Linked DNA regions of Homo sapiens: region 2 is linked to region 1. Evidence: fine-mapped expression QTL. A gene starts in region 1. The other region holds a variant in brackets. All regions are shown on one strand. Distances are from middle to middle.

Evidence for each region.
Region 2: its variant is fine-mapped to the expression of CLINT1 in iPS cells (HipSci, PIP 0.95).

Annotation. Positions count from the first base shown.
Region 1 is chr5:157,858,029-157,860,943 of GRCh38, reverse strand. CLINT1 (clathrin interactor 1) reads left to right here and starts at 1,799. Exons shown (of 12, transcript NM_014666.4): 1 at 1,799-2,014. The coding sequence starts at 1,974. RefSeq lists enhancers at 1,511-1,750, 1,588-2,169.
Region 2 is chr5:157,592,098-157,595,012 of GRCh38, reverse strand. No RefSeq gene overlaps it. Among named protein-coding and RNA genes, the nearest start is that of ADAM19, 18 kb to the right of the region's middle. RefSeq lists a silencer at 511-610. The variant TG/G (reference allele first, on the strand shown) is at 1,578.

The DNA of each region.
Region 1 (2,915 bases):
TTGAGCCCAGGAGTTTCAGATCAGCTGGGGCAACAGAGTGAGACCTCCAGCTCAAAAAAAAAAAAAAAGAAAAAGAAAAAGAAAATAGAAAAGAGGTGGTTTCACTTGAGGGACCAGGGTCCGAGGTTGTTTATTTGGGATTATTGTTACCTAGCTTCATGACTAGCAACCATCAATTTCACTTCTTTGTGAATTGGAGTCTTTATTTGATCCTTTCGAGGGATCCTTCCATTTCAACCTCCTAAGTAGCTGGCCTCACAAGAGTGTGCCCCAACGCCTGGCTTTTTTTTTTTTTTTTTTTTTTTTTTTAAAGACTGGGCTGGCAGGGGGATCTCACTTTGCTGCCCAGGCTGGTCTCAAACTCCTGGGCTCAAGTGATCCTCCTGCCTTGGCCTCCCAGCCTCCCAAAATGCTGGGATAACAGGCGTGAGCCACTGTGCCTGGCCTGTAATGAACTATTGTAGAACCTAAGATTGGCCTTTTAAGACGTCTTTTCAGGCTTTTGCATTTCTGACAAACGGATGACCCCACCCAGACCAGCCACTCCTCTGCTGGCCCTCCATCAAGAAGCCGATTCAGCAAAGGAGAACCATTTTCCATACTCCTCTGATTGCATCCCTAACCAATCAGCAGCACCCATGCCCTAACCCTCTGCTCACCAAACTATCTTTGAAAAACTCTAGCTTCCAAATGTTCAGGAAGATTGATTTGAGTAATAACTCTGTCTCTCAAGTGGCATGGCCAGCCTCATGTCAAACTCTTCACTGCAATGACTTGGTCGCAGTGAATTGACTTTATCTGTAAAGTGGGCAGAAAGAACCCGCTAAGCAATTACACTATATGCAATTATCTTAAATGTTTCCTTGATTATTATATGTTTCTTCCAATTACGTTTGAATTCCAAGAGAGCTGGGTCTTTAACTATATTCCCCACTTCTGGAACATACAAGATGCTCAATAAATATTTGTAGAATGAAAAGAACTGTAAAATTTCAGCAGATGGATCAAATGAAACTTAAGGTTGCTTGTAGCTTTAACATGAGCATTGATAAAAATGAGTAAGTAGAGAAGGAAGTGATGACAACCATTGCAACAAAGCAATGGAAGCAATGTGCATATTTATCCTTAAAAAACACAAACCTGTCATATGTATGTGTATGTGTGCGTGTATATATAATGTTGGCTTTTTAGTTTCCCGTGGAGTGTGAACTGAGTTTCTGAGGTTTATAGTAAAGCATTTAACAAGGATTTCAGGTAGTTGTCTAAATATAAAACATTGTATCATAGAATTAGAGCGGAAAAGGATTTAGAATACAAGTTCTTCAATTTTACAGGGGTGGAAACTAAGGCCTAGAGATCTAAGTGTACTTGGGCATTGGGAAATAAATACAGCGATGTGTCTGTCGATGAGGAATGCGTATGCCAATCATACTTCTGTATAATCATTACTAATAACATAGTAATACTGCCTTACATTTGAAAAGTGTTTGAGTGTGACTAGACCCTGCACCAGTGGTTCTGAAACTTGAGCGTGATCAGAATCACCTAGAGGATTTGTAAAAGCACAGATCGCTGGGCCCCACCTCCAAAATTTCTGGCTCGGTAGGTCTGGGGCCGGGGACTGGGAAAGCTTAAGAGAAACCATCCCAACTCCTCTCAGCTCTCCCAACTCAACCTCTCAGCTCTCCCAACTCAACCGGCCGAGCTCGGCACTCAGGGAAAACTACAAGTCCCGGCGTGCCCCGCGCGCAGCGGCGGAAAGTCGGACACTTCCGCTCCACGCAGCGCCTGTGCTGCCGCGTCTCGACGTGTCACCGGCGGCGCCGCTGCTGTGGCAAAGGAAGGAGCTGACTGGGGGAGTTCGAGGCGGCGGGCGGCGGTGACCCCGGCCTGGAACTGCCCCGGTACGGAAGTGTTCCGGGGTCCGTGGGGAGCAGGAGAGGGAGGCGGCGGACCGTCCCGCGCGGGGCACGATGTTGAACATGTGGAAGGTGCGCGAGCTGGTGGACAAAGCGTGAGTATCGGGGGGCAGTTGTGGCCGAGGCCCACGTGGGGGAGGGGGGAGGGGGAGAAGGAGCTGGCCTTGGGCTAGGGGTTGCCCACGTCACGCCCCCTGGCTCTGCCAGCCCCATCATGGCGGCGGCCCGCTCCTTCCCGGCCCCGGGCCTCATCCCCGCTGGCGAGGCTGGGGAGGGACCCTCCCTCGTTTTAAAAAAAAACATCCTCTTGGCCACCCTTCTCTCCTTTCCAGGCCTTCCCGTCCCTTCCCCTATTCCAACCCCTGGGTGCCGACGCTTTGGTCATAAGGGGCGGGTTGTTTGGCGCTGGGTCACTGCCCTGGCCGGAGGACTGTCTTGGCCCCAGGCCGTGGGCTTTGCCTCCTGGGGAGCAGGGAAGGTTTGGGGGTGGGGGGCACAATGCACTGGTTCCCTGTGTCCCTCAAGGTGTAGTACGGAGAGACCTTAGACCTGGTTGGGGTGTGTCTTTTATCTTCCTTGCCTCCTCTTAATTCCTAATGAACCTGAAGTGTTGGAGTGGGTGGTAGTAGTGTAACAAGTGGCTATTGTGGTCAGCCTGAAGTTACTCAAGAAGACACTCATCCTTTGCTTTTCTAACACTAGTGAAAGTAGATCACTATATGACTTCTTGCGATTTTTTCTTCTGTTTCTTTTTCCACTACACATCATTTTTGGTGTGCTACTTGTTCCATTCGATTAAATTAAGAGGTCATTAAGAAATGTCCTCTTAAGGAAAAAAACAACCCAGGTTTATATCCTGTTGATCTGCTTTTAAAAGCAGGTAAAACGACCAGTACGTAGTTGATTTCCTTTAAGACTGAAATAACTTTAGTCTCTTACTTGCACAAGGAAAACCTTAACTTTTAAAATGAGTATATCAGGTATAACAGTGGTTAA
Region 2 (2,915 bases), 270 kb after region 1:
CCAAAAATTATTAAGAATTGCAAAATGGCAATACCAGAGCATTAAATCAAGTGTGAGGCTCTCCTGAGAATGATGCCCTGTGCAACTGCCTGGGTTGTACTTCTGGGAAGCCAGCCCTGGGTGCCTGAGCTGATCAGATGTGATACAGAGATAGGTGTTAACCAGCTGCACTCATGTTCCTCCTCCAAATTCTGCATTGTGTTTCCACCATGTTTTGCAGGGATATCAAAATCAAATGCCAGCAAAATAAATGAGTGATGTAGGTTAGGGTTAGTGAAAAAAAAAAGGAGCAACTGATATTGAGCTTTAAGCAATTGTCACCACGGGAGAATTTAGACTTACTATTGTCTGACTTTCTAATTTTTCATAAGAGCCACAATCAGGAATTTTTTTTCTCTGATTTTTGAACATTTGGCAACTGTTCAGAAAAAATATCCAAAATTTGGAAATGAGGCAAAAGAATGACTGCAGTTTCTTTCATTCAGTGGCATCTAAGATCAGTGGTTCTCAAAGGGTTTTCCCTGGTAAATAGCATCTGCATCAACTGAGAACAAATCATCAGTCTGCCCCAGATGTACTAAATCAGAAACTCTGAGGTTGGAGATCAGCATTCTGTGTTGTAATGAGCCCTTCAGGGAATTTTGCTTTAAGCTTAGGTTTGAGAATCACTGCCCTTAACCACTCACTGTCTTTTCTGTTCAGGGCATTGTCTAACTCCAGGGAAACACAAGATTGTTTCACCTGCTGTTTACTGTTTGTGATTAATTAGGGGTCTGACATTTTATAACTCTGTAAAGTTGGATGTTAAATTACAGAAAACGAATAAATTGTCAATGATTTTTTTTTTTTTTTGTCCAGTAAAGCTGTAAACGATTATCGTCTGGTAGAGAAGATAACCCCAAAGAATGTAGTTTTATTGCCCTGTAGGTTATTAACCAGTTTGGATCTCAATCTTATTTTAGAGTTCCTTTTGTCTAGTTTTTCCTGTCCTTTTTTGAACCACCTTGGTGATCTTGCTGGTTCTCTGATTAGTTAATTAAAACCTGGAAAATGCTCACTATGTATTTTTATGATAATTAAATTTTTAACATTTTGAAAATATTTTGGACACAACTACAATCCAAATTATTTTTACAACACTGTGTTGGCCCACAGGTCACCAGCTCATGACCTCTCACAAAGAGGATTCCAGCTGCCTTATTATCCATACAGAAAACATCCTTGACCATTTGCTCCTATTATTCTTAATTTCACCTCCCGCTCTCTCCCTCTTGTCACATGAGGCCATTTGCCTTTCCCCAAACACTAAACACTTCCCATCTCTGTACTTTTGTTCATATGCACTTTTCTGCTTCAAGGCTCAACTTCAAAACCCCTCCTTCATGAAGCCTCCTACGATCCTTGTTTATATCCAATCTCTCTTTTTCTGGGCTTTTCCAATCCTTAGCTTCCGTTCCAGGAAAACACTTGTTTTCTCTTACCATATGTAAAATCAAGTTTGGACTGTCTCCTAGCAATGCTTTTCAGACTTTAAGTAGCAGCCAAATCACCTTGGGTTTTTTTTTTTTTTTTTTTTT[TG/G]GATCTTATTAAAATGCAGCTTCTGATTCAAGAGGTCTGGGTGGGAACTGACAGTCTGCATTTCTAATAGGCTCCAGGTTCTGCTGATGCTGCTGGTCTGTGGACCACACTTGGGCTAGTGAGGCTCTAGAAGGCAGGGGCTCTTACCCAGGAACCTCTGTTTCCAGGGCAAGTCATAGCGCTTTGCATAGAGCTGAATGAAAAATTCATGGACCCAGATGTCCTTTGGGTGTGGCTATAAATGCAAAAGGTTGTTGCTCTGAAATCTGTATCCCCACGTCATCTCCGTGGGAGAAAACTCCCATGCTAGGGTTCTATCTTTTTTTCCTCCTTTTCCCTCTTGGAATTGTGTCCTGGCTGTGTGACCTTGGGGAAGTTGTTTACCCCTAAAATGCCAATTTTCTCTTCTGTGAAATGGGATCCTAACACCCAGTTCACATGGCTTTTTGAATGGATCAAAGAAGATAATGGAGTGAAATGTCTGCAAAAGGTTGGTGTAACCTCTAAATCCCACCAGGGCTTTATCTAGAAAGGGGAAAAAGCACCTAGGGAAGGGTGGCTGCTAGCTGAGGAGGGGAAACAGCTGCAGGAAGCTGGCTCCTATGATACATTTTGCATCATTATCTATTAAAAATATTTGACTTCCGGTTTCTAGTCCTGCATGAAAGGAGCTTAGAAGTCACCACTCGGTCGTAACAACAAGTAAAAAGCTTGATGAACTGAAAAATCAGCTCTTCTCATGTCCAGTGGAGAAGTGAGGTTATATGGCAAGCTGCTGCCCACAAAATTGGAGAAACAGATAGATACAGAGTATCATAACATCAGAGCAGAAACCCACCAGCAGGAACCTCCTGGGAGGTGCTGGGGGAAGAAAACTGGAACTGTAATTGACAAACTGCTAAAGACTCCGCTAATTTTTGTTATTTTTAGCAGAGACAGGGCTTTACCATGTTGGCCAGGCTGGTCTTAACTCCTGACCTTAGATGATCCATCTGCCTTGGCCTCCCAAAGTGCTGGGATTACAGGCATGAGCCACCATGCCCAACCAACTGAAAAACATTTTAAATATGATTAATATGCTGAGGGCTTTAATGGAAAAAGAGACAACATGCAAGAACAGATAGATAATGTAAACAGAGAGGAGGGAATTCTAAGAATTAAAAAGAAATGTTAGAGATTAAAATCACTGTTACAGAAATGAAGAATCTATGATGGGCTCATGAGTAGACTGAACATGGCTAAGAAAAAAACCTCTGAGCCTGAGGATGTGAGAATAGAAATTTGCAAAACTGAATAACAAAGAGAAGAAAAGACTGAAAAAATAAAACAGAATACCC